Homo sapiens: one gene and its partners. The protein of the gene in region 5 interacts with the protein of the main gene of each other region in a pairwise test. Each region holds a gene or a part of one and is shown on either strand. Other genes may lie near its edges. The genes, in order: ZFAND3, SLCO3A1, KCNE3, DYM, GOLM1, TF and RPA2.

Region 1 (3,987 bases), on a different chromosome or scaffold from region 5:
GTTGTTGGCATAACAACAGTTATGTTGTTGCTGTGGACTGTTGCTCTGTGAAGCAATCAGGAAGGAGCTGACGCAGACCCAGTTCCTGTGGACCAGTGGGCAGAGCACAGCCCACTGCTCCCTGCAGGCCCGCCTCACACCCAGGCCACCAAGGCCCTCTCTTGCCCTTTGCCCCCGTGCTTGTTCATCGCCACTGGGCCTCTGATTTCCTCTGAGGATTTTCATCACGCTCATGACAACTATGCGGTCAATATCTCTGTCCTAAAAGAAGTGGGGACAGGTCCCACTCCTGTGCCTCGCCCCTGCCCTGCCAAATGTTTTTTGAACATTTAAAAATGTAGTTAAGTTCATCCTATACACCAAAGAGTGCCACAGCACACACCTCCTCCAAGCCAGCCTTTGGGAGCCTTCGTCATCCATCCTGGAGGCCCTTCCTAGGGTGGGGTTCGGGTCTAGGGCATGCTGCCTTCCCTCAGGACCCAGCACCCACCCCACCCACGCCTGGGGCCCTCAGGGCTGGGGCTCGTTTTCTGATCCCCCCCAGTGTGTAACCTCCTGGCTGCTGGCACAGGCTTGGCCCTGCAGACCCACCTTTACCCCAAGGCCAGTCCCGCAGCTTCCCAGGGCAGAGGCTCCCAACAGAAAGCAAGGAAGCGGCTGTTTAGCCTGGACACTAACTGGACGAGTGCCTCCAAGTACTGCAGACGGTCTCTGCACACAGGCCCCCATCTCTTTCCAGCCCTGGCCAGGGAGATGGGTCAGTTTTCCCAGCAACCCAGGGGGCACTTAGGAGAAGGGGTGAAACAAGAAAACCAAACTTTCATACGATTGGTTTAATTTTTTTTTTCAGCAGGAGAAAAAAGAATAAAGTTACAAGATTCTTTTAATATTTTCACAATGTTAAAACTAAAACTGAGCTCTAGGCTATGTGTGTAAGTAAATCTAGAACACAAAAGGGTTAAATAAGATTTTCTCTTTTAAAGATACAAGAATTTAAGCTTTCCTTACATTTAACAAACTTCACAGAACAGATACTGCAGGGGAACAAGCCCCACCCCCCACCCCCCCCAGCTCTAAGTCAGGAAGCGAACATGGGCTTCGCTCCCCCAGGCCAGCTCCCCTGGGCTCCTTCCCATGGCTGCCTCCACGCAGCAGGCAGAGGAGGGGGCGGGGGGCCCTGGGGAGGGCCGGGAAGGGCTCGCACAGCCTCTTCGGGACCAGAGCTTGGCGGAAGCCTATGGGGGGCTGCCTCACTGAGGATGGCCCGTATGGTGGCCAAGGGCTGTGGCTTGACAGCAGTGGTAAACGCTGGGCAGACCTGGCCCCTCTGCCCTGGGTTGCCCTAGAGCAAGACACCGGTCTGGGTCCTGAAGCAAGAATTAAGGCTGGGGATTTTGCAGCGGGTTCCACTCTGGTGGGTGGAGGGTGGGAAGAGCATGACTTCCTATTTCAGTACGTCGGATCAAAAAACATTTGCAGTTGCAGGTGTTCAGCTGTTAATTTGCAGACAGAGTTGAACCATTTGTTGTTTTATAAAAAGGAAAGTTGCTGGGTTAAACTATTCCAGTAGCCTATGTGTGGGCAGATCCACGCTGCCTCCGCAGGGGCCTCCTGCCCTCACCCACCTGGATCTGATGCGGCACTAGGACCACTGGGACTGCTCACCCTGCCTGGGCTTTCAAGGGAATCCTGATCCTGTCCACCCAGCCCCAGCCCCACCTGACTGGTAGTGATTTCCTAACATGGGGCAACCAGGCCCACCCCCACCCTTCCCCACCTGGCGTGCGCAGTTGCAGCTGCTGAAATCCTCTGTGAACATGAGGGGGCACAGGTGGAGAAATGTACCCTCAGGCCCTCACCTACCAGAGCAAATATCACTCTCGGAGCTGGGCCACAGCCACAAACCGCTGTTCTAGACAGATCCAAACCCACTGTCCCTGGGACGTATGCTGCCTTCCCTTACTAAACTTGCTATATGGTAGATGTGGACTGGGTGTCCTTGGACTATGGGGCTGCATAGAAACGAGAATGGAGGCCACGACATCATCCTCTTGGCCCCTGGAGGCACGGGCGGCTCCAGCTGGAAGGGGCAGAGCCCGTGGGCGGCAGCTTCCCCAGCTGCTGCTCCCAGCACTTCTACTGATTCTTGTTGGCTATGAAATGTCTTTTTAAAAAACTCCCAATATAGAAATCTGGCTGCAGAGGCCAGTGTGCAGACCCAGCCACCGCGCTGTGCTGCCATTCGCCACATCTGGTCCGTGCCAGATCCCTGCACTGGCGAATGGCAGACCAGAGCCGGCGGAGGCGGGGCACTCTGGCTGCTTCTCGTGACCTTGGATCCTGTGTAGAAAAGGCGGGTCTCGTTCGTGGACTAGTCTTGAGTGGAGCTAATTTTCAAAGTGAGGTTACTGTTTCTCTTCTTGTGTGATGAGTTTTTTCATAGCAAGTCAGGTAAAAAAATTTCCGTAAGAATCTGTCCCCCACCCCCCATTTCCAGCTCTGTGGGAGAGTGAGGCCACCACCCAGCCCAGCCACGTGGCCAATCTCAGCAGCCTCCCGTGGCCAAGGCACACGTGGCCATCAGGTATCCTGGCTACTGGGACTAAGGATAAGTGAAGAGGTGAAAGGCCGATCATTAAACAGAGTTTCTGGCAAAGCCATGTGCGTCGTGGGAACTTTAACACCAGCTTCTACTCCTCTATTAACTCAGAGTCTCCGTCTGGAACACTTTCCACTTAAGGCTTTTTATAAGTTTGACTCCAGCAGTGACAGGTATGTGTTGTTTTAAATCCACTAGCCATGCTCAAAAAAAAAATATTCTTCATGTTTTAATTTTATACAATGGCTAGCAGGCACCTTAGTAACCAGCCAGAAATCAATTTCAACCACCATCAACCCCTAAACTACAGTACCAGGATGGCTGGCTAAAGAAAGGAAACGGACTGGCTGCAGTCTGACGCGTGCCCAGTACAAGGTGTCTGGCTGACTTTGTCCTAAATAAGGCTAACATTAGTGAACTAAGAACAGCGTCACGTGGTGGCCATGCCTGGCCTTCAGGAGCACCCCTCCCCGATGCGCTGGCAGGAGCGCCCCACTTTCCGGTCCAGCTTCACCATTTTCATGATGGCTTCCTCCCGGCCACGGCCCATGTGGTCGAATGTGCAGTCGTGCTGCTCGGGGAGGCGATGTAACATACAGAACACATAACCTGCAGCAGCGGGAGAAGCAGAGGAAAGAGTGTGTTAGGGTGGCCTCCAAGTGCGCAGAGCCTCACAATTGCCTTTGTCCAGAGGATGGAGGGGCATCCCAGTGAGTGGACAACACTCACTGCAGGGGTTCCTGATGCAGCAGAGAGCTCACTCCAACACCTGCACCCTGGAGCAAGAGGGTCAGCACTTTGCATTCCACAGCTGCTCAAGCCTGTCCCTGCCTGGACCCTTGAAGGGTAGAACCCTAAGTTGATGGCTGCGAGACACAGCCCTGTCCTTGCAAATGAGTGGGCTCTGCGCTCCTCTCCAGCACCATGCAGGCGGAAGAGCACAGGCTGTCAGCTCAGCTCTCTGCTTGGCTCGGGCAAACTGTGATTTCCACCACAGGATGCCCACCATTTCTAGGAGGCAGGAGAAATGATTATGTCTTAAATGACATTCCACCTCCTGTACAGCCGGGGCTTGAGAGGATGGTGGGAGTGATCAAACCACAACCCAAAAATGAGTGGGAGCTCTCAAAGGAAAGTGGATTATTTCTAGTGCTAGAAAAAGTATTAGATAGAAACAGAGGAGACAGCAATGCTGGGCTCCAATCGCCATCTCCAAGGAATCTGACACTTCTAACTGCACTGGGTAGGTGAGAGAGGTTGAGATGCCCACACTCGGGCCCCCAGCTGTCCTTCCCTCCACTGGGTAGGTGAGAGAGGTTGAGATGCCCACACTCGGACCCCCAGCTGTCCTTCACTCCACTGGGTAGGTGAGAGAGGTTGAGATGCCC
Region 2 (4,089 bases), on a different chromosome or scaffold from region 5:
GACCGTGCACCACCCTTGAGCTCCCATCCCAGCCTCGTGAGCAGATCCCAGACATACCTGAAATAAGCATCACTTTCAGACCCACAGCCCAGCCCTATCCAGGTAAATGAGCTTGGGTAAGTTACTCAACCTCTCGGAATCACAGTTTACCTATCTGCTTTGTTTAAAACAGCAAATATTTTAAAAATCCATGTCCAACTATAGAAAGTATTAAATATTGTCGTATATATTCAGAAGGGATTATATATGCAGCAATGTCATAGAATAGTAACAAACAAATGCTCATGAAATAGTAAGAGAAATGAAATTACACAAAACATCATTTATCTTGAACACATTTTCATAGAAAAGCATGCTAATGCAGAAGAGAGAATAGAATTGTGTACACCATAAAGCTACAATATTCTCTAATTATTCTTTTTCTACATATTCAAAATTGTAAACGGTGAACATGTAATGCTTTTTAACTAGGAATAAAGTTATTGAGAAATCTTTAGTACTCCCATTTCACCTTTTCCTCCTTGAAAAAAAAAAGGGGGGCAACCTAATGAAAGGGCACAGTAAGCCCATTCCATCATCCTACTTACACTTTCATAAAAAGCAAATACGACTTGTGTTCTGAACTTAGAGAAACAGAAGGACAGCTAAGAAAACTGGGCTAATGGAAGATCACAACATGGAGCTAGAGGCATGACTAGACTCCCAAAGAATGGATTCTCCGACCTCAGTAGGGGCCCAGTGGTCTCCACTGCCACTGCGCCCATGTAGTCACTCTAGGAACAAAGAGTGCCACGTGCCACCCACGGGTCACCGTCTGGCTGCACTGTGAGTCCGGGTGCCGCATGATGCCGCAGTGAAAGCCTGCCAGCAGAGCCGAGTCCCCATTCATCCAGTTTTGTCCCCTGGTAATGAGCTCCCTTGGCTCCCTCCCACACTGGAAAGGACGGGCTGAAGAATGGTGCCAGCCAGAGGAGCCCCTTGTGAATAGCCCATCCAGGAATCCAGGAATCTGGCAGCGGCTCAGCCACAAGAGGCCAAAGCAAGTAAGTCATTTCAGTGGAAAATATCGGCTTGATTCAAGATGGAATGCTTCACTTTGCCCTGGGTTGTAGTGGAAGCTACGACACGGCCACCGATGTACAAACAGCACCCATCTAGTGACCCACAATGCGGGTGACCCGGGGCAGGTGTCATCACCACTGATCTGCAGCCTGAGCTGTGCATGTTGATCATTCTGTTCCCTGCTGACACCCAAAGGGAAGGCTCAGCTCAAGAACAAGCTGGTGTTTTACACATGCCATATTTAGAATCCTTTCAATCTCCACTATAGTGTCACGATTTAGGCATATGACCAGACAATTGGTTGTGGGCCCCTCTCTAGACCAACTCTGCAGGAGCTGGAACCAGGGGTACACATGTTATTCCTCCCCGATGGATATACAGTTACACCTACAGTCCCAGCATCAGTCCCTTGAGACTTTCCTCCTCTTCAGGGAGTTAAGAGGCCAGAATTTTATATCAATCCTGTTCAGTGGGCTACCCCAAATACTGTGAAGTAAAGTTAAGTGGCTTCAGGAACTAGTGCCATATTAGAGGAGATAAACTCTGAAATATTCTCACTACCACAAACACTTTTTTTATAGCTCATACAATAAATAAATGAACCAGTTATACTCTGCATATGCTATGATCTTAAATTATACCTGGAGAATAAACCACATATGGAATAAAAGGCCCCCTATTGAGGCCAATCTATGCAAAAGACTTGTCCTCTCCTGATCCCGATAAACACAAACCCATGTAAACCAGTGCAGAGAAACCCAGAACTATCATCTCCATGGCATGGGCTACGATGTTTTGGAATCTGGCCATATGTAACAGAGCCACCAAGATGTTCGTATGTCATGCAAAGAGACACTCCCCCAACTCAGACTTATCACAGAGGAATGGGGTGACCAAATAGAAATTTGGCTGAATAGTTCTTCCTACCAAAGACTCAATGCAAATCCCACAGACAAGGCCTCAGAATTCAAGAAGGCCTTCTGCCTCAAATGATCAGCCCTACTGTCCACGCCTCCACCTCCCACACCCCCATGTCCCAAACCAAAGTGCTTCCTCACCATAAAGCTTTTGGCACATTCAAACCAACCCTCACCCAGTGTGGGGAAACAGCACAGCTTAACTCATCAGGAGACACTTCCAGAAGAGGGTTCAGTGACTACGGCTGGAAGCCCCAGGCAGAAGTGATACAGCACTGTTAGGACTTCAGGGGTGACTCTGGGGAGAAATTTTTCTACTTGATTCTATCAGCAGAGACAACAATTCAGGTTTTCACTCCCCATTTCATTCCCTGTGCTCTGATTGATCTACTTCCTGTTATTCCTACCAGAAAACAACTCTCCCAGAGCCCTAGGGTGACATCAGTCAAGTCAGAGGGTGGACCTCAGGAGACCTTTGTGGCTACATGCTGTAGTCCATGATCTGGTGTGCAAAAAACTCACGTGGAGCGGCTTTCACTCAAGACTTAAGGCAATGAAAGAAAAATGATTACCTTAGTTTCCCTTCCTCCACCATAACCACTCTCAGGTAATAATGGAAACCCCTAACCATCTCTGGCCTGAGCCGTTTTCTCTTCCCCTTTGTTCCATAGGTAGCTGGTGACTAGGCTCACTGGTGCTCCATCCTCTGAATGGAGAGGCGCATTCCTTCCATCTTTCCTGCCCAGAGCCTGCTCACAGCCAGCCAGAACATCCGCGTGCAACATCCGTGTTCAGTAAACGCGTCTACTCCAAAGCTGGGCCAGAAAGACACAGAGAAAAATCTGCATTTCGGTGTGTCCTGCTTCCAAACCATCCTATCTCAGCAAGCTTGAAGCCTGGCAGATAGGAACCTTTATGTCAAATCCAGTTCAAATTCTATTTTCACTTAAAACTCCATAATATAATTAACTTTCTACCTCAAGGCACATTGCTTTTGGGAGGCATAAAGCTTCCCTGGGTAGAGGTAATGTTTTCAAAGCTTAGCACTCAGTGACTGGGGATGTCAGAAAAATCCAGCAGCTGGCAGGAGACAGAATTATACTTTGTAAACAAGGGATAGAGATGCGGGGCTGGCCAGCCCTCACCTTGCACGCTGCCATCCAACAGAGCCCACCGCAGCCACTGAAAACACTGCCCGCCACGTAATAAACAACTTGCCACTCAGATGATTCTTAACCCCCACGCACAAGTGGTTTCCATCCTTCCAGTATAAAACATCAGAAACTCTGACCGTGAAAAATAACTTTTCAAAACACAAATACCTTATTTCTCTCTACATACCCAATTCCCATGCATACTTCCATTATTGAAAAAATTACCGGAAGTCACCAACTTCGAATGATGCCAAATGCTGGCAAAGCCATCACCTCTCCTTTTGAGCTGCAACAGGACAATGACCAGGACATCATTCTGATTCTTCAAAGCTGGAGTTTCCAATGTGTAGACCCCAAGTATACCTTGGTGGCTAATATCAGAAAGCCCAAAGTCCACATACGCACTCAAAAAGAAGAGATAAACATACAACTCCTCCCGATCATGTTTTCCCACTGAAGCGGTGTTAGTGGTCTAGCCCCGTGGAGCTCAAATTCGGCCGCTCACAAGAATCACCTGGGAACTTTTAAAAACGTCTCAATGCCCAGGTTGCACCCCCAGGCATGAGTATTTTTCAAGAACACTAGGTGTGCAGCCAAGTCTGAGAACCAGTACTCTGGCAAAATCAAAGTCCACCAGGCCACCTTTTATCCATGGTCAACACACCCTGGTCTCTTGCTAATACGGCTGGGGCAGCTCCTACCTATATAGAGCGAGGAGTCCTTCCTCCGCACGTGGTCGTCGATGTAGGAGACGCCCAGGGGCTGCACAGGGGTAGCACCGATGCCCAGGAGCACCTGGGCCCCAATGAGCAGCAAGTACATCATGTTGGTAGCCGTCCGGTTGCGGCAGATGAGGTCGGGGTCGGGCCCCTCGTCGCCGCCCGAGCCGTTGGCTGCGCAGACGTCGCGGCCCTCGGCGCCCCAGCGGATCTCGCCCGCCTCGTACTTGTACTGGT
Region 3 (4,089 bases), on a different chromosome or scaffold from region 5:
AATCTCCTCATCTTGTAAAATTGAAACTCTATACCTACCATACAACAACTCCATGATAATGTCTTTTGGTAGATGAGGAAACCAAAGCCCACCCAGGGAAAGGAACTTATTTCCTTCAGAGTAGGCTCATCAAGACACTTACACTGTTTGTTTGTTGTCTACCTATGAAATTGCCTGAGGCCCCTTCCTCCTTCAACCCTCACTTAGCCATTTCCTCCTCAGGTCTTACGACTGTCTCTACCCCCACTTCCCTACTTTGTTATCCTCTCTGCCCCAATTCATGACTCAGCATCTTACACTAAACTATTTCAAGACTCTGGTAGCTGGGCTCACTGCCTCAATTCCAGCTCCCTCCAGTCCACATGACAGCCAGAGTATCCTTTCCAGGCACAGATCTGACCATTTTATCTTCTTTTAAGATACCATTCCATGGCTTTTCCCTAGCTACAGAATAAAGTTCCAACTCTACAGCGTGGCACTCAAGGCCCCCCATGATCTGGATCCTCTCTCTCCTGCCCCACATCCTACACTATTCTTCCACACATCTTACACTCCAACCTCTTTATGCTACTTTCCATTCTTCTAAACATTTACACACTTTCTTGTTCTGCCTTTGCTCATGTTTCCTTCATCTTTTCTGCCTCTTAAAAACCCTTCAAGGTCCAACTCAAATGCCTCCATCACTGTGGACACTCTCTGAGCCCTGATCAGTATCCATCACTTATTCCTTTCAGCCTTAGTAGCTCTTTGCTTGTCCCCTGCATTGTATCAGAGCCCCTGGGCGAAGGCACTGGATCTGAGCCACCCCGAACTCCCATCACAGGGTGTGGCCCATATTGGTGATAACTATCTAGATTATTTTTTGAGTTATTTATTTCATCATGCTGCTCCTACTTGCTATTGGCCCACACGAGGGAAGCAGCAGCCACAGAGTTCTTGCCTGACACATGGGGTAGTAGATGAGAACGTGTATCTCCTGGATCTTAACTCAGTGAGCTCTTGTTCTTTTCCCCTCCTCCATCCAGACAAGGCAGCACAAGTACTAGATGTCAGAAGGCCCCAAAGGCCTTGCATGAAATGCTGCCCAGTCCTGGCTGATTGTGTTCATAGAGCCATTGATGAATATTTTTCATAGTCAGAATGATCATCTTTTCCAGGGAAGAGATCTTATGGTTAATAGTCACATATTAGTTTGTTAACAGTTCTACCCATATGATGGAGGACTGAATGCTTGGCCCATAGAGAATTCCTTAAAGTGAACATCTCTACTAGAAACTATTGAGAGAAGGAGAGCACCCAGCCAATCTAGAAAAAGGGAATACCCAGCCAGTCTCAAGGTAGTGCCCTGGGAAAGGAGAACACCCAGTCTCAGGGTAGTCCTCCAGACTGGGGTAAGAGACATAGCCCTGCTGACCAGACGCATGTGGTCTGATGATATCCTTATCAAAAACAAGAGGACAGCCACATATTGCCTTATATGTAAGTGCTGGGGGGAAGGGAAGGCTGTGATGATAAAGGCAGTGTAGTGTGGCTGAGAGGTGGGGAGCACTGAATGGAGGCTTCCTAAAGGAAGTGAGTGTGGGGCCTTGTTTATAGGGAATTACATATGGTTTTTCAGAGACAAGGATGCAAGTCTGTTTTAAGATGTTCTTTCTGGCTGGGCGCCTGTAATCCCAGCACTTTGGGAGGCCGAGGTGGGCGAATCACAAAGTCAGGAGATCGAGACCATCCTGGCTAACATGGTGAAACCCTGTCTCTACTAAAAATACAAAAAAATTAGCCTGGCGTGATGGCGGGCGCCTGTAGTCCCAGCTACTGGGGAGGCTGAGGCAGGAGAATGGCGTGAACCCAGGAGGCGGAACTTGCAGTGAGCCGAGATTGCGCCACTGCACTGCAGCCTGGGCGACAGAGTGAGACTCCGTCTCAAAAAAAAAAAAAAAAAAAATGTTTTCTATATTATAGACTAAGGATCTCTGAGAAGAAGGGAAAGGAACATTTATAATCACTTACTATATGCCAGGTACATAATGACTTTATTTCAGGAGACAAGATAGTTGGCGTGCTTGTGTCTTCTTTTTGTGGGCAGGTAAACCCCAAGCCAGACTGAGAACTCCTTTCACTCTCCCGCCCTCAGGCCCAAGCTGCTGTTCTCTTCTCCAGTGCCTGCAGTGGTTACCAACCTGTTCCCGTTTCCCTGACCACCTCTTTCCAACAGAATTTCTACAAATAGCTAGGAATATCTAGTCTTTGGGACACAGGATGCTTGAGAGGGCAAATGATCCAGCTTCTGGCCTCCAGGCAGGATGAAATTTAAACCATCCCCAGGTGTCTTCCAAAAGGTGTCCGTGGAGTCTTTTTTTTTTTTTCTTTTGAGACAAAGTCACGCTCTGTGGCCCAGGCTGGAGTGCAGTGGCTCTATCTTGGCTCACTGCAACCTCCACCTTCTGAGTCCAAGTGATTCTCCTGCCTCAGCCTCCCAAGTAGCTGGGATTACCAAGCGCTCACCACCACGCCCAGCTAATTTTTGTATTTTTAGTAGAGACGGGTTTCACCACATTTGCCAGGCTGGTCTCCAACTCCTGATCTCAAGTGATCCCACCCGCCTCAGCCTCCCAAAGTGCTGGGATTACAGGCGTGAGCCACTGTGCCCAACCTGTCTGTGCAGTCTAAAGAGAACTGTGCTCAAGGAGAGTTGTGATGAATGTCTTCTAATGGTGCTGCACAGTCCTGCTGAGAGCTAGCATGGAAGTGGAAGCAGCTCTAAGCTAGCCACAAAGAGCAGGGCTTTCTGTCTTGGCTCTACTTCCAATATTCTGTGATCATGGACAAGCCACTTATTCTCTCAAGGCCTCAGTTTCCCTGTGTATAAAATGGCAAGAGTTATATTAAATAATCCTTAAGTTCCTTCTAATCTAAAGTTCAGTGATTTATAGAAACCAAAGAAAGGAGAGATTAATATGGGTTCTGATGGTCAGGGAAGGCTTTGTTGTACAATTATTTATTGAGTACTTACTTATTGAATGCTGTCATAAGTGATTGCATATAGCAGTGAGTAAAACAAATATAGGCCCTGCCCTTATTGTTTAGTGTATGGTCTAATGGAGAAGACAAACATGTAATCAAGCAGCTAGAATAAGCTATTGTATTAGTCCATTTTCATACTGCCATGAAGAAATACCTGAGCCTGGGTAGTTTATAAAGAAAAAGAAGTTTAATGGACTCACAGTTCCACACGGCTGGGTAGGCCTCACAATCACGGCAGAAGGCAAAGGAGGAGCAAAGGCACATCTTAAACAGTGGCAGGCAAGAGAGCAGGTGCAGGGGAACTGCCCTTTCTAAACCATCAGATCTCGTGAGACTTATTCACTATCATGAGAACAGCATGGGAAAAACCCACCCCCATGATTCAGTTACCTCCTACTGGGTCCCTCCCATGACACATGGGGATTATGGGAGCTATGATTCCAGATGAGATTTGGGTGGGGACACAGCCAAACCATATCAGCCATGATGCTAAGATTTTACCTGGGATCTGAAGGGAGGAGGTCATTTGAGCTGCAGGTGACAGAGCCATCCCCTCTCTCTTTTCTTTTGCCACCAGAGCTTCTACCGAGTCTTCCCCCACCTCAATCCCTGTTGCTATGGAGACTACCAATGGAACGGAGACCTGGTATGAGAGCCTGCATGCCGTGCTGAAGGCTCTAAATGCCACTCTTCACAGCAATTTGCTCTGCCGGCCAGGGCCAGGGCTGGGGCCAGACAACCAGACTGAAGAGAGGCGGGCCAGCCTACCTGGCCGTGATGACAACTCCTACATGTACATTCTCTTTGTCATGTTTCTATTTGCTGTAACTGTGGGCAGCCTCATCCTGGGATACACCCGCTCCCGCAAAGTGGACAAGCGTAGTGACCCCTATCATGTGTATATCAAGAACCGTGTGTCTATGATCTAACACGAGAGGGCTGGGACGGTGGAAGACCAAGACACCTGGGGATTGCGTCTGGGGCCTCCAGAACTCTGCTGTGGACTGCATCAGGTCTCAGTGTCCCTATCTGTAAGATCAACAAGAAACACGGTTAAGGGAGGTC
Region 4 (4,089 bases), on a different chromosome or scaffold from region 5:
TGAGTTCAAGCAATTCTCCTGTCTCAGCCTCCTGAGTAGCTGGGACTACAGGTGCATTCCACCAAGCCCAGCTAATTTTTGTATTTTTAGTAGAGATGGGGTTTCAGCATGTTGGCCAGGCTGATCTTGAACTCCTGACCTCAAGTGATCCACCCACCTTGGCCTTCCAAAGTGCTGGGATTACAGGCATGAGCCACCGTGCCCGGCCTAGAATTTTTAAAAACAATATTATGGGGAAGTAGAAAAGATTCTGTGGAAAGTTAACCTTTTGTGCATTCAAGCATTTCTTAAAACTATTTTTAGATGGCAAAAATCTTATGGAAATTCTGGTTATATCATTTAAATGTATTAAGGTATTATGTTACATTTTGAGCAAATGAAATGACATGGTACAAGAAAACAATAGTTTACAATACTTTCAACTCAAGTAGCAGAGTGACCATGTGTATTTATCTCTTCTCCCTCTGAGACCCCATTACCTGATGGTAGAGCAATTTTCTACACATACTGTTGAGCAACTTAGGACAGTCATTTCATCCTTCTTTAGGCTCCTTATGGCCTCTTTCAAGATCAGGAAACGGTTTTGGAGAAATAGAATATGAATTTCTGTTTTACTGCAATCTTTTTCTTCATTCTTATCCTCAGTGTATTTCCAAATTAGAAAAGGACATTCTTCTTGACTCACACTTTGAAAATACGATTTTACCATCTTCTAACATTTTAACAGCTTTTCTGTGACTGGCCACCTTGATAGCCATTTGGCAGGTTCATGTCCAAGGAGTCTATCGCCTTTCATTTCTGTAAGGTCCGAATCTCACTAAGTTCTGCAGGTTTTGAGAAAACTGAAAGGTGGCAAACATCACAGGGCAGGAAACTACTGCCTCATAGCAATGCTGTGTGCAAGGCATGCAGAACATTTAGCAGGCAAGAGCTCTTCATTTTCTTTGGTCAGAAGTTTGTAGACTAAATGGAATTTGCTGCAGTTTACATATGCCCTGTCCCCAAATAGGCAGATAGATGAGCAGACTCTAGTTTGTGCTTGAGCAAGATATCAGCAATCTTTTGTTTTCTGTTTATGTGGAAACATTTTTGTTTTCCTCTACTGATACTGGACAAATATGGTTGAGTGTATTTAAATTCAAGTTTCATCCTTGAGAGCATACTGAATTAAAAATATCACAATTAAGTTTGTTTCGTAAGTGTTCTAAAGTTTCTTTCCAACAGATGACATAGTTGGCTGGTTGCAGGGAAGGGAAATCATATGTTCTACTTTTCTTTGAAAGTTATTGTATTAGGGTTCTCTGGAGGGACAGGACAAATAGCATAGATGTATATATGAAGGGGAGTTTATTAAGGAGTAGTGACTCACATGATCACAACGTGAAGTGCCACAATAGGCCCTGTGCAAGCTGAGGAGCAAGGAAGCCAGTTTGAGTCCCAAAACCTCAAAAGTAGGGCTGACAGTGCAGCCTTCAGTCTGTGTCTGAAGGCCCAAGAGTCCCTGGCAAACCACTGGTGTAAGTCCAAGGGTCCAAAAACAGAAGAATCTGGAGTCCAGTGTTTGAGGGCAAGAAGCATCCAGCATGGGAGAAAGATGAAGGCCAGGAGACTCAGCAAGTCTGTTCCTTCCATGTTCTTCTGCCTGCTTTATTCTATTTGTCCTGGCAGCTGATTAGATGGTGCCCACCCAGATTGAGGGTGGGTATGCCTCTCCCAGTCCACTGACTCAAACGTTGATCTCCTTTGGCAACACCCTCACAGACACATCCAGGAACAGTACTTTGCATCTTTCAATCCGATCAAGTTGACACTCGATATTAACCATCACAGTATCTCAGGTATTATTCTACATTTCATAGTTAAAATGTGGATAACTTTATTATTCTTGAATAAAGCAAGCATATCAATTTTAGCAGTTTTATTTGCTGTCATCTTTTATTTTCCCTTCTGTCCCAGAAGACCATTTCATGGAAGGTCACTTATTGTTTTGTCCAGTTTTGAGTTAGTATGAATTACTACCTCATTAACTTTGGGGGATAGGGGGAAGGGGATAGGTACTGAAATTCTCTTTGATGCTGTTAAAAAAATGTTAAATTTCAGATACTGTACCAAGTTATAATTTATTAAGAATAGTTTCCTATAAAGGGTGAATAAAATGACAATGAATATGTGTGTGTGTATATATACATATATATATGTGTATATATGTTTATATATATATATTTTTTTCTTCTAAAGCCCAAGGTAGGTATAGATGTGTGTGTGTGTGTGTGTGTGTGTGTGTGTGTGTGTCTTTTCCCCTTTCCCGCTTTGTAACTGTGAGAGCCCCAGGTGTTTAGGGGCTGCCCCACGAGTATTTCCCTTGGATAAAAATGTTTACCTTGTCTTCTCAGGGGAAACAACTCTCCAGTTTCACTGTAGATCAGCCATTCCTTTCTTGGATTCTGTGCTTTCTACTCTGAAGTAATTCCTGTTGAACTTTTGAGATTCTGCTCTAAAAAAGATAGGCAGCCAATTTTTTTTTTTTTGAGACAGTTTCACTTTTGTTGCCCTGGTTGGAGTGCAATGGAACGATCTCGGCTCACTGCAACCTCCGCCTCCTGGGTTCAGGTGATTCTCCTACCTCAGCCTCCCAAGTATCTGGGATTAGAGGCATGTGCCACCATGCCCGGTTACTTTTGTATTTTTAGTAGAGACAGGGGTTTCACCATGTTGGTCAGGCTGGTCTTGAACTCCTGACCTCATGTGATCTGCCCACCTCGGCCTCCCAAAGTGCTGGGATTACAGGTGTGAGCCACTGGGCCTGGCCTAGGCAGCCAAATTTTATTGAAGCTACCTTTCATTAAGCTACCTTGGAAAAGGGAGCTGAGGCACAGGAAGCAAACTGAACCATCCTAATATTTTTAGAGATTGAGCATTTGTCATTTCACCAAAATTTATTTCAATAATAAAAGTCCCTTTGACTCCACATTTGATTAGTGGTACTGGAAAAACAGGTACTGCTTCCTCTTCCCCCTAAACTTTCACAGGCAAAATACATTTTCTGTCTCTTTCTCAGTCACTAAGTAGGAAAGGAACATAAGACCTTCTAAGTTGTTTCTGAATATAGCTAGATTTTTTGCTGGTCTTGATCTTCTTTTGGGATTGACCATTATGTTCTCTGACTACCATATAACTGTATGTTATAGTATAGACTTAATCAAGGATTTTGAGGAAGTTAACTAAGTTGGTGTGTGAGAGATACTGCAGAATTTTGGTATTTTGAATGTTATATACTTTATTTTTTTCTAGGAGAGAATATTTGTGAGAATTATGTAGAATCTAATTAATTTAACTATTCCCAAACCACCCCATCATCTTTCACAGTTATTGTTTATCATTTAGCATGATTTTCAGAGCTTGTGCTTTATACATTGAGTTTGAGTTTCAAGAGATGGATATGTTTAATTTACTATTTTGATCATTAGCCTTCTATATTTTTTAAATATATACTGATGTCTGAAGTTAGAGCTTTTAATTAGAATTGTGTCTTGCGTGTGTTAGTTTTGTTAATGCTGGCCTTCATGTTTGTGATGCCAGTAGTACCAAAAACATAGTTCTGCTTGGTAAGTTGCAAACCTTCCCATGAAGTGCTAGCAGCAAGAATGGAGTGAATGTTTATCCTCACAGGGCCCAAGAGCATAGCCCACTCAATACCTGCAAACCCAGCACTTTGTTTTGTATTATGTCCTACAAAATGTGCATATTTTTACTTTATTTAACGTGATATTGTCAGAGGCATGGGAACCAGAACAACTCCATCTTGAATAGGAGCTGGGTAAATTAAGTTGAAACCTACCAGGCTATATTCCCAGACAGTTAAGACATTCTAAGTCACAGAATGAGATAGGAAGTTGGCACAAAATACCAGTCATGAAGACCTTGCTGATAAAACAAGTTGCAGTGAAGGAGCCAGCCAAAACCCACCAAAACCAAAATGGCCACGAGAGTGACCTCTGGTCATCCTTACTGCTACACTCCCACCAGCGCCATGACAGTTTACAAATGCCATGGCAATCTTAAGAAGTTACCCTATATGGTCTAAAAAGG
Region 5 (4,089 bases):
AGGCAAGATGTGTTACTAAGAAATACACAGCATTTACAGAAGAGTGTGAATGGTGTGATCTTGTTTGGATTAAAATAAATATATTGATGCTTATATATGCATCTAGAAACATCTAGAATAGCGGCTATACATATGAATCACCTGGGGAGGTTAAAAAATACAAATATCCGGGCCTTGCCCTAAACCCCATTGAATTAGAAATGCAGGGCTGGGGGCCAGGTGTGATGGCTCACGCCTGTACTCCCAGCACTTTAGGAGGCTGAGGCGGGAGGATCACTGAGCCCAGGAGTTTGAGACCAGCTTGAGCAACATAGTGAGACCCCATCTCTACAAAAATAGAAAAAATTAGCTGGGCGTGGTGGCACACACCTGTAGTCCCAGCTACTTGGGAAGCTGAAGTGGGAGGATCACTTGAGCCCAGGAAGTTGGGGAAGCTGAGGTGGGAGGATCACTTGAGCCCAGGAGTTGAGGCTGGGATCACACCACTAGGCAGCTATTTCAGCCTGGGTGACAGAGTGAGTGTGTCAGCCTGAGCAACAGAGTGAGACCCTGTCTCAAGAAAAAAAAAAAAGGAAAGAAAAGAAATGCAGTGGTGGAGCCCAGGTATTGATATTTTAAAAAGTGTCAGGCTGGGCACGGTGGCTCATGCCTGTAATCCCAGCACTTTGGGAGGCCGAGGCGGGCGGATCACAAGGTCAGGAGATCAAGACCATCCTGGCTAATGGGGGAACTTCGTCTCTACTAAAACTACAAAAAATTAGCCAGGTGTGGTGGCAGGTGCCTGTAGTCCCAGCTACTCGGGAGGCTGAGGCAGGAGAATGGCATGAACCTGGGAGGCGGAGCTTGCAGTGAACCTAGATCACGCCACTGCACTCCAGCCTGGGCAACAGAGAGAGACTCCATCTCAAAAAAAAAAAAAAAAAAAAAGTGTCCCAGGTGATGCTGATGCCCCTTGAGTGTTGAGGACCACTGGAACAGAAGGACCCAGATGTTAGAAAATGTTATCCCTTTCCTTTGGAGTAGGATGAGGGGGATGTAATTTATCCTTTTTTCTTTTTTTTTTTTAATCAGAGTCTCGCTCTGTCGCCCAGGCTGGAGTGCAGTGGTGTCATCTTGGCTCACTGCAAGCTCCGCCTCATGGGTTCAAGCTTTTCTCCTGTCTCAGCCTCTTGAGTAGCTGGGACTACAGGCATGTGCCACCATGCCTGGCTGCTTTTGTATTTTTAGTAGAGATGGAGTTTCACCACGTTGGCCAGGCTGGTCTCAAATTCCTGACTTCAGGCCATCTACCTGCCTTGGCCTCCCAAAGTGCTGGGATTACAGGCATGAGCCACTGCACCCGACCAATTTATACTCTACTGTGTGTAGTTTCCTATTTTTTCCTTAGCAAAAGCCATTTGGAAAAGTCCCTGCCACCCCCTCTTGTATTTGTACTTTTATATTTTAAAAACAAGGTTAGCTGGGCACGGTGGCTCATGCCTATATTCCCAGCACTTTGGGAGAACGAGGCAGACGGATCACCTGAGGTTGGGAGTTCCAGACCAGCCTGACCAACATGGAGAAACCCCGTCTCTACTAAAAATACAAAATTAGCTGGCCGTGGTGGTGCATGCCTGTAATCCCAGCTACTCGGGAAGCTGAGGCAGGAGAATCGCTTTAACCCGGGAGGCAGAGGTTGTAGTGAGCTGAGATCACACCATTGCACTCCAGCCTGGAAAACAAGAGCGAAACTCCGTCTCAAAAAAAAAAAAAAAAAAATCATTGAGGCTGGGTGCACTGGCTCATACCTGTAATCCCAGTACTTTGAGGGGCCCAGATGGGAGGATCACTTGAGGTCAGGAATTTGAGGCCAACCTAGGCAATAGTGAGACCCTGTCTGTACAAAAATTGTTTTAAAAAATTAGCTGGGCATGGTGGCCCATGTCTGTAGTCCCAGCTACTTGAGAGGTTGAGGGCAGGAGGATTATTTGAGCCCAAGAGTTTGAGGCTTCAGTGAGCCACAATTGCGTGACTGACTCCACCCTGGGCGACAGAGACCCTGTCTCTAAAATAAATAAACAAAAATTTTAAAAAGTTTAAGAGTCAAAAAAGAGACTCTTGTGATCAAGAGTCTCTTGAGTATATTCAGTGCTTGCTGATATCAGCTGATAATTGAAAGAAAAACGTGGTTTCCCCTTTCATCCTGAGAGGCCAGAAGCTGGTAAGACATGAGCACAGGTCAGAATTTCCACCCGTGGGAATTCTGGGGGTGCTTTATTTTAGATGATTCGGCTAGATTGCTTCTTTATCCCCTGGCAGGCCCCCATACTAGTAGCTAGCTGTTAAGAAAAAAGAAGCCTTTTGGTGACCCACCTGAAAAGACCATAGGGTGAGGATCAGTTCTCCCATGTTCTCACTGGTGAGAATTGGGTTTTGCAGGTGAATCCTTGGTGGTATCCTCTTCCTTACCCGTCCCTTGTCTTTTTTGCCCACCATCCCCTTTCCTCCTCTGTTGCTAGACACCCCTGGTGTAAAAGGCTCTCTGTGCTCAAAGGCTGTTTGTTGCAGTGCAGCCACGCTCACTCTGATAAGGTTCTGTTTTATCTGGCTTGGGAAAAGCCATTTGGAAAAGTCTACTTTCCTTGTTCCTAGAGACCAGTGCTTGCATCCAGGCAGACCTGGCTTTGAATTGAAGCCCATTAACAAAATTTATGGCATCTTTCTTCTAAGCTGTATTTTTGTGCACTCTGTAGCTCTCACACAGAGGCACTGTTTTTCCTAACATGAGGTGTACAATGCAGCAGTTGCACAGATACGGTCCCTAAAGTGAGAAATGAATGTTCGAAAGAAGGTGCTCTCGTTTGGCATGGAGTGAATGCCTTGTTTCCACCTCAAATCCTAAGATGGAACACATTTTTCCTGGTGACTTCAGGCAGATGGCACACCTCCCACTTCCGTTGTGTGTCATGAAGGAGGAGACACTTCTATAGCCAGGGCTGTGCCTGAATAATGATGTACATGGGGGGGAGTTCACATTCACCTCCAGAATGGGTTTCCTGCTTTGCTTGAGAAATGCTTTAATTGGGTGTCATTAGTAATCCTGTCAAGGGTAAAAAAAACCTCCCTTGTTAGGAATCAAAGCAAAAAGCTCTCTCTGAGGAGTAATGAGGAATATACTCTTTCTAATATGATGCGGAAGCACTTAATATTTGTTATTGGTGTTTACAGAAATGATTACTTCTCAAACATTGCTGCTTACAGAAATGATTAATTCTCAAACTATGCCGGGAAGGTGAGTATGGTAATGATTTTACAAGGGAGGAATCTGAAGTGTAAGAGGAATCATGTCTTGCCCCAGGTCTCGAGCTAATCTGTGGCAGGTTTCGGGGCGGTGCCTGCTCCTCCGAGCCTGTCCTGGGAACTGGCCACACTGCCCTGGGTTCACAGCACCATGGGCTCTGTGCGTGCCGTTCACATACTCTTCTCCCTTGACAGCTTTGCACGTCAAGGAGAAGCTACCAGCCCACGCTTCTTGGCAAGACTCCTTTCCTCTTGGTTGTAAGGATGATACGGTCTGCTTCGGAGATGATAAAACTAGTATTGATGTTTATTTATTTGCTTTTACTTGGCAGATTCTCAGCGCTGATTTTGAGATGATGGGCTTGGGAAACGGGCGTCGCAGCATGAAGTCGCCGCCCCTCGTGCTGGCCGCCCTGGTGGCCTGCATCATCGTCTTGGGCTTCAACTACTGGATTGCGAGCTCCCGGAGCGTGGACCTCCAGGTGTTTTGTTTTCTTTATTGTTATGTTTATTTTATGTTTATGTTTTGTTTATTTTGTTATGATGGGGTCCCAGGGGTTTGTTGTTTATTGCCAGCCAGGGCGTTTTGTGCAGGGCACACGCTTGTAAGGTGAGTTTAGGGCTCTGCACACCCCCACAGCCCTGGGCCAGACCCCAAGCAGCTTTGGGTGGGAGAGGTCCCCTCTGTGGTTGTGTAGGATTGCGGTTGTGGTATCCCTCCCTGCCTTTCCTGTGAGTTAACAGCATTCATTTGAGCTACTGGGGTGGTTCTGGGAAGACAGCTTGCTTACATACACTGGCCATAGTCCG
Region 6 (4,089 bases), on a different chromosome or scaffold from region 5:
ATAAATTTCCACCAATAAACGTGTATTATTTTTATTGAAAAAGCATATTTTTAACATGCCCTTCTAGATGCCCTCCTAGCCAGACTGAATCACCTCCCATTTGATTTTTCTTAATTTTCTACCTTTAGGTTCTGGCTCATTCATTAACATCAATTTCCATTCATAAGTCCTCACAAACCCACTTTTCCTCTTGCCTGAGTGCCTCACATACCCTACTGCCTGAGATGGTTCCAGAGGCGGTCTCCTCTCTCCCTTAGAAACACCAGGCACACACCTGCCCCCAGTCTCGCCTGCACTCTCCTTTCCTCCCGCAGAGAGGCATTCCTTTCTCCTCCTCTCATCCTACACACACTATAAGAGACAACTGAAATCTTGCCTCCTCCAGCCAGCTTCTTAATTCATTTGTTCTCAAAGCCCTGGTTTGAGCTCACACAGCATCTAGAGTGTTTTACAAAATATAAAATATTATTATCCCTGCCCTGAATTTTTTGTTTTGGTATGTGTGTTATTTTCCCCTCCAATAAGATTGTGCCTTGGAGAGGGCTGAGAACATAGTATCATAGATAAATGAATAAAATAACATAAAATAAAATAAAAATACATATACCCTTTGAACTAACTATTCCACTTCTATGTAAGCACAATTATATGCCAGTAACACTCATTTTAACGCTACTTTAGTGGCAAAAAATTGTAAACACCTCAGATGCCTATTAAAAGAGGAATGGTTTAAAGATACTATTATAGCCACACTATGAAATATAATACAGTAGTTAAGAAGAACGAGCTTGATTTGTATGTACTGACAAGAAGAATCTATAAGGTATGTAAACAGTTGAAAAAAAAGCTACAGAGTTTTACATTTGTCAAGATCTAACACTAAACAAAATTAGAAACATGTGAAATCCATATACACACGTAGAAAAATACATATAATGAGCCGTGGATGGAAACTCGCAAATGTGATATTAAAGACTAGCACTATAAGACTGAGTGAGATTTGGAGAGTATAGGAAAGGAGGCTTTTAGTTAATATAGAGAGATATTCAAAAATTTATGAGTGTGATCTCATGTATTAGTTATTCGGTTAAAGAAACAAAATTAAATGAAAAATACATTTTTAAAAAGGTTGCAATTCTGAATTATGGGAGAGAAATAAAAATTAGCAAAACATATTTGCAAAGTGGCTCAGGAGGAAGGAGCTGAAACCCTAAGAATGGGTGAGTTTTTTTTTTTTTTCAGAGACAATACAGAAAAGAAGAGGCAAAGGGGCCGAGATGGGATACAGACCTGTATCACACAGGTGTGTGCACATTCTCATTTAGAACTGGAACAAGGGAGTCAGATTTAAAATTCTGGTGCAGATTCCAAAGGTGTTCTCTGAGGAAAAGTTCTTTTGTTTGGAGATGCCATGTGTTACAGCACAGAAATTGATCAACCTGGCTTAGAGCGTCACATTCTTCCTCTGTTGGAGCAAGAGGTACAGAAGGAATTGGAATTTAGTGGAATTGAAGATCTTTTTGAACAGCATCTGCAGAATGTAGTTCATTCTCACCTGGCTGGGTAGGGAAGGTTGGAAGGGGATGGTCAATAATCATTCCTGGTCACTGTGAGTCTGGCATCACCTTGTAGACCACATGGGTGTCTCTTCCTGTCCACATCACTGTAACCCCAGTGTGGGCACTTCTGCTGGCGAGAAGGCCCAGGTTCTCTACACACCACTGAGTCAGTTCCATCTCCCCAGCGGGGCACCTTGACCAAAGCCATCAGCTGAACCACCTTCTTCCTGTCCCTAGGAAAAAACCCTGATCCATGGGCTAAGAATCTGAATGAAAAAGACTATGAGTTGCTGTGCCTTGATGGTACCAGGAAACCTGTGGAGGAGTATGCGAACTGCCACCTGGCCAGAGCCCCGAATCACGCTGTGGTCACACGGAAAGATAAGGAAGCTTGCGTCCACAAGATATTACGTCAACAGCAGGTATGGACCAGCCAGGTCCTCCCACCTTTTCTTCCTAGATGGCCATAGGCTATTCGGGGGGAGTTTACAACAAAGTGCAGCCATGACTCCAGCACTTTCTTTTTGAAAACTAGAATTCCATGCATTGTGCATTTCATGCCATGCATTGTGGACTAGAGTATCAGGGTTCAAATCACAGCTCCACAGCTTCCTAGTTGTGCCATCTTGGGTATGTTACATAACCTCTCTATGCCTCAGCTTCCTCATATATAAAATTGTAATAATAATATTTTTACCTACTTCTCAGTTAACATGAGTATTAAGTGAAGACATGCACCCAAACGGCATAGGAAAATTCCATTTCCTATAGGACGTGCTCAAAATATGTTAGCTGTGTAATTATGGAACTAGACCTCTCAGGCCCAGCTCTGCTTCTAGCTCCTGGTCACTGGTGATTAGATCTGATCCATGTACTCTTGGGACTAGGAATCTGCCTTTCTGCTCCCCCTAACCTTGTTCAGGGGTACCCTCATTTCCCCTACTCCTGTCCTTCCCGAAAATGAAGAAGACAGCTCCTGTTTCCCAGCGCTTGTTGATACGAGTCATGAAGAGTGGATTTCTGTTCCTCTTGCCTAGGCAGACTGAGCACTGTTCTCAACAGTCTGAAAAACACAGGACCCTTGCCCTCGGAGAGCCTGCCCTCTGGGGGAACAACCACTCAGGGCCAGCCTTGTTGAAGACAGGGGCTGCCTGAGTATTCTAATCCTAAAGGCCCCTCCACACACACACATCACCTTCCTTTTGGGCATAGCTGCCTGCTGTTGATTCACCATTACCTTTTTTTAAAAAAAATAAGAGTATATTTGAAGTCCTTTTAAGGTACATGACAATAATAAGCATTTAACATACATTTCCTAGCTGCTATATGGAAAGTTCAACATTTTGCAGTCATCATTTCACTTACAACCTTTGGAGATCTGGAGAAGCTGAGTGGCTTGCCCAAGAAAGGATTCAAAATGCAGTCAAACATGAACTTTTAAGAACTACCTCTGCCACTCCTCTGGGAGGGTTCACATTTAACATCTTCTTTGACAATAACATCTGAAGGGACATGTTATTGTCCTCTCATTTCCTATAAGCAGCCCCCAGTGAAGGGCAATGAAGTGGGGAAGAGAGGTCAGAGTAGGCAGGCATGGGTGTGGGTGGGAGGGACTTATCAGAGGAAGGTGGGACCAGGGACCCTATAGATGATTTTGGGGGCATCATGAAAGCATGCAGCTGGGGCCCTAAGTGGATAAATGGCAGATAAAGGAGGTGGAAAATTCCCAAGACATACTCCGTAGCTTCCCTTTTTCCCCAGGGCTGGTTCAGAGCTTTCAGACTCTTCTCATCCATGTGTTCCCAGCTGCTAAAGACCACAAGGTCCTCACGGACTTTCTGTTCACTTGACAGCACCTATTTGGAAGCAACGTAACTGACTGCTCGGGCAACTTTTGTTTGTTCCGGTCGGAAACCAAGGACCTTCTGTTCAGAGATGACACAGTATGTTTGGCCAAACTTCATGACAGAAACACATATGAAAAATACTTAGGAGAAGAATATGTCAAGGCTGTTGGTAACCTGAGAAAATGCTCCACCTCATGTGAGTAGGAGGAACAGCATGGGGAAGTGGCAACCAAACATGGTGGTGAGTGCTGGGATGGTGGGTGGGTACAGGAGGGGTAGGCTGTGGCCCTTGGGATAGGACAACATGGACAAAATGAAATGGTGAGTGAACAATCTAAGCCCGGCATGTATGACAGGCTAGACTGTAGGGGCAGATAGTAAGGGGATACAGGCTCAGAGCACTAAGGTAGTGAACTTATTGGGTATAGAGAATTCCATCTTATTTCTAAGAAAAGGACTGGGTTTATGTGTACATGCCATTGCTCTGCAGTAAACTTTTGATTAGAGTTGCCTTGTCCAATATGGTAGCCACCAGCAAGATGTGACTATTTAAATTTAAGTTAATTAAAATTAAACTAAATAAAAGATGTATTTCTTCAATCCCACCTAGCTGCATTTCAAGTGCTCAACAGCCACATGTGGCTCCATATTGGTCAGCAAAGAGAATGTTTGCATCATCACAG
Region 7 (4,089 bases), on a different chromosome or scaffold from region 5:
AAATGACTAATGGAGACAGGACTTTGGAATTGCTTGTAGGTCTTGTGATGAACTGTAAAAGGTAGAAGAATAGCTTCTTGTAGGACAGATTTTTTGACTATCAAATGGAGCTCCTGGGGAAATGGAGTAAGAGCTTGGCCATGTTGGACATCTTTTTAAATTTTTTTTCTTTGAGACAGAGTTTCGCTCCTGTTGTCCAGGCTGGCATGCAATGGCGTGATCTCAGCTCACTGCAACCTCCGTCTCCCGGGCTCAAGCGATTCTCCTGGCTCAGCCTCCTGAGTAGCTGGGACTATATGTGCCAGCATTTTGCATTTTTAGTAGAGATGGGGTTTCACCATGTTGGCCAGGCTGGTCTGGAACTCTTGACCTCAGGTGATCTGCCCACCTCAGCCTCCCAAAGTGCTGGGATTACAGGTGTGAACCACTGCCCTCGGCCAAATTTTGTTTTGAGATGGGGTCTTGTTCTGTCACTCAGGCTGGAGTGCAGTGGCATTACAGCTCACTGCAGCCTCAAACTCATGGGCTCAAGCAATCTTCCTGCTATAGTCTCCTGAGTAGCTGGGACTACAGGCACACCACCACATCCAGTCAATTAAAAAAACATTTTTTTTTTTGTAGAGATGGGGTTTTGCTATGTTGCCCAGGCTGGTCTTAAACTCTTGGTCTCAAGTGATCCTCCGACCTTAGCCTCCCAGTGTTAGGATGACACACATAAACCACTGTGCTGGACTCATGTTGGACGTCTTAGGGGGAAGAGGCAGGATAGGGTAGGCAGAACAGTATCTAGTGAGCACACTCAAATTATATCTTTTTTTTTGAGATGGAGTCTCACTCTGTTGCCTAGGCTGGAGTGTGGTGGCGCGATCTCAGCTCACTACAACCTCAATCTCCTGGGTTCAAGCAATTCTCCTGTCTCAGCCCCCCCGAGTAGCTGGGATTATAGGTGCACGCCACCATGCCCAGCTAATTTTTCTATTTTTTTCTAGAGATGGGGTTTTGCCATGTTAGCCAGGCTGGTCTCGAACACCTGACCTCAGGCAATCTGCCCACCTCGGCCTCTCAAAGTGTTGGGATTATAGGCGTGAGCCACCGCGCCAGGCCCAAATCATATCTTAAAGCAGCCAGACAACAGTGTAAACTTATTTTTGCCTACCAGTGGCAAGAGGTAGTCTGGGTAACATGAAGATGAATATGATGGGACAGGATTTACCCTCAACATATTCCTAATCTAGGGGAGGTACAAAGGTAAACAATAAACCTGATCTTGATACACTGTAAAATGAAACATGCCATGTGGGACCTCAGAAAAGCTTACTGGCAAAAGAGGGAGGCTTTAGGCTGAACTCTGAAGCACGAGAATTTCAACAGCGAAAAAGTAGCAGGTAACAGGCTGAGGGCAAGTATGTACTCCCAGTCTCCTAGAGGGAATATGTACAAGGCACAAAAACGATGAGAGCTCTTCCTGTCAGAAGCCAAGAGGAAGTGGACCAATACCTGTACTACATGGAAGACTTAGAACACAGTAGACTCTTGGCCTTCATGGATTTAGCAGTCGCAACTCTGACCTGAACATCCACGACACTGCCAATATTTCATTTTGCTGAAGCATGATTGTGAATGGTGAGTATTGCCACAACAGGATAAAGCAAGCTCAGTCAACCGCTGGCACATATGCCACAAAAGGCAGCAGCCAAGCTTGAGGGTTAAGATTGTGGCTCTATTCTCAAGAGCAGCTGCTTGGCCAGGCGTGGTGGGTAACGCCTGTAATCCCAAGGCCGAGGCGGGCAGATCATTTGAGGTCAGGAGTTTGAGATCAAGCCTGGCCAACATGGCGAAACCCCATTTCTACTAAAAATTTAAAAAAAAAATTAGCCAGGTGTGGTGGCGCATGCCTGTAATCCCAGCTACTGGGGAGGCTGAGGCAGGAGAATCACTTGAACTCGGGAGGCGGAGGTTGCAGTGAGCCGAGATCATACCATTGCACTCCAGCCTGGGCAACAGAGACTCTCCTCAAAAAGAGAAAAAAAAAAAAGAGCGGTCGCTCTTGGTCACATGTATTAACTCATTTGTACCTCGGTTTCCTCATCTGCAAAACTAGGAATGATATTATAAAAATTACATGGTAAAGGACTCAGAATACTACCCAGCACAAAGCACTCAATAACAAATTTTAGCTATTATTATATTAGCTATTGTTCCTCATTCTTTACATTTGCAATAGCTTTTAATAACAACGTTGACAGGATCAACTTTTTCAATTTTACTTTATGGTATTTTATAGGTAAAGTTACATGCTATGTTAATATTTATAGTCTTAAAATTTGCAGGGGTCCCAGGATTTACCTCTCACAAACTACTATATTTCTGTTTTTACCTATCACAGCTGAGATTTTCATTGTATCTTCAGCATAAGAAAACTTAAGAACCAGTAAGGTAAAGTGGCAAGAACATGAGGTTTGGAGCCAGAGAGTCCTGTAGACCCATGCTCAAATCCCAGCTCCAAAGTCCTGGACACATGACCACCTTTTCTGAAAACTGGGGATATACACCTCTTAAGTTGTAAATGAGACACATAACATATATGAAGTGCTAATACCAATCTCTACATGTAGTAGATGTTTGACAAATATTATTACCTCTCAGGTAAAAATGTTACATATAGGTAACAGTTGAGATGTTAACAATGCCTTCAAATTCATCTCAAATCAAGTATTTATTTTTTATTGAGCATATATTTTATGTAGGAATTGATCACAAGGAATTCCTAGTCTGCTCCAAAGAGGTTCACAAAGTGTCAATAAAAATATGCTTAATTTTGGAAAAACAAAAACAAAAACACTTTCAAACTAAAAAAATTTTCATAGCTGACTATGAACCACAGACTACTCTGACAGTACTTCAGGAAAGTACCATTATTACAGATTAAAATTGGGTCGCTATTTGAAACTTCACATGGTTCAATCATATTGAACAAATACATAATCAACAGGAAACATTTTGGATAGAGTTCTTTATCACCCAGGGATGGTGCTGCACACCTGTAATCCTAGCTACTTGGGAGGCTGAGATGGGAGGATCCCTTGACCCCTGGAGTTAAGAGTCTGTGGTAAGCTATGACTGCACCACTGCACTCCAGCGGGGGTGAAAGTGAGACGGTCTCAATTTTAAAAGAAAAAAAGAATAGGGCGTTTACCTAACTTTTAACTGTGGAAAATACTAGATTTAAAAACAAAACAAGGCCAGGCGCAGTGGCTCATACCTGTAATCCCAACACTTTGGGAGGCCAAGAAGAGCAGATCGCCTGACGTCAGGAGTTTGAGACCAGCCTGACCAACGTGGCAAAACCCCGTCTCCACTGAAAATACAAAAATTGGCCAGGAATGGTGGCATGCGCCTGTAGTCACAGCTACTCGGGAGGCTGAGGCAGGAGAATCGCTTGAACCCAGGAGGTGGAGGTTGCAGTGAGCTGAGATTGTTCCACTGCACTCTGGCCTGGGCAACAGAGAGACTGTCTCAAAAAAAAAATAAAAATAAAAACAAAAAGACTGTCCGGGTGTGGTGGCTCATGCCTGTAATACCAGCACCACGGGAGGCAAGGGTGGGAGGACTGCTTTAGCCCAAGAGTTTGAGACCAGCCTGGGCAACATAGTGACACCCTGTCTCCACAAAAAGAAAAAAAAATTCAGAGACTGGGATTGAGTCTCCAACTTACAAGCATTATTCTCTGAAAAGCTATCTTAATACCCAGCTTTTAGGAATTCTGAGATAAAAATTATAATAACCAGAATGGAGAAAAATAGTTAAGCTTGGGAAGAAAAGATGAGAACCAATCATCTACCTTGTTTTCTCCTTCACAACCTCAAGAAAATCAGAATAGAGAATTAAAGTCCCTTGAGATCTTCTAGGAAAGAGAAAACTACAACAGGGAGAAGTTGCTGCTCATCAGATGTTGGATTTGTTCAGCATCATGTGCGTACTGTCTGATTCTAGTTCCTTACTAGCTATGTAAGCTTAGGCAGTCCCTTAATATACCTGAGTCTCTGTTAGTATGCTGGAATAAACAATAAATTCCTTACAGAATTACAT

The links.
Region 1: the proteins of GOLM1 (region 5) and ZFAND3 interact in a two-hybrid assay, tested with the Homo sapiens proteins (one large-scale study listed by IntAct).
Region 2: the proteins of GOLM1 (region 5) and SLCO3A1 interact in binary tests that used the Homo sapiens proteins (3 or more experiments, as listed by UniProt).
Region 3: the proteins of GOLM1 (region 5) and KCNE3 interact in a two-hybrid assay, tested with the Homo sapiens proteins (one large-scale study listed by BioGRID and IntAct).
Region 4: the proteins of GOLM1 (region 5) and DYM interact in binary tests that used the Homo sapiens proteins (3 or more experiments, as listed by UniProt).
Region 6: the proteins of GOLM1 (region 5) and TF interact in binary tests that used the Homo sapiens proteins (3 or more experiments, as listed by UniProt).
Region 7: the proteins of GOLM1 (region 5) and RPA2 interact in a two-hybrid assay, tested with the Homo sapiens proteins (one large-scale study listed by BioGRID and IntAct).

What each region holds. Positions count from the first base shown.
Region 1 is NC_000006.12:38,151,456-38,155,442, reverse strand, and holds the end of ZFAND3 (AN1-type zinc finger protein 3), read right to left. Parts: intron 3,209-3,987; coding exon 3,054-3,208; 3' UTR 819-3,053; downstream 1-818.
Region 2 is NC_000015.10:91,916,204-91,920,292, reverse strand, and holds part of SLCO3A1 (solute carrier organic anion transporter family member 3A1), read right to left. Parts: coding exon 3,835-4,089; intron 1-3,834. UniProt on the Homo sapiens protein: Putative organic anion antiporter with apparent broad substrate specificity.
Region 3 is NC_000011.10:74,457,116-74,461,204, reverse strand, and holds part of KCNE3 (potassium voltage-gated channel subfamily E member 3), read left to right. Parts: intron 1-3,601; coding exon of another isoform or gene 3,602-3,641; coding exon 3,642-3,953; 3' UTR 3,954-4,089. UniProt on the Homo sapiens protein: Ancillary protein that functions as a regulatory subunit of the voltage-gated potassium (Kv) channel complex composed of pore-forming and potassium-conducting alpha subunits and of regulatory beta subunits.
Region 4 is NC_000018.10:49,373,397-49,377,485, reverse strand, and holds part of DYM (dymeclin), read left to right. Parts: intron 1-4,089. UniProt on the Homo sapiens protein: Necessary for correct organization of Golgi apparatus. Involved in bone development.
Region 5 is NC_000009.12:86,078,864-86,082,952, reverse strand, and holds part of GOLM1 (Golgi membrane protein 1), read left to right. Parts: intron 1-3,611; 5' UTR 3,612-3,632; coding exon 3,633-3,761; intron 3,762-4,089.
Region 6 is NC_000003.12:133,773,637-133,777,725, forward strand, and holds part of TF (serotransferrin isoform 1 precursor), read left to right. Parts: intron 1-1,796; coding exon 1,797-1,981; intron 1,982-3,412; coding exon 3,413-3,602; intron 3,603-4,089. UniProt on the Homo sapiens protein: Transferrins are iron binding transport proteins which can bind two Fe(3+) ions in association with the binding of an anion, usually bicarbonate.
Region 7 is NC_000001.11:27,907,694-27,911,782, forward strand, and holds part of RPA2 (replication protein A 32 kDa subunit), read right to left. Parts: intron 1-4,089. UniProt on the Homo sapiens protein: As part of the heterotrimeric replication protein A complex (RPA/RP-A), binds and stabilizes single-stranded DNA intermediates that form during DNA replication or upon DNA stress.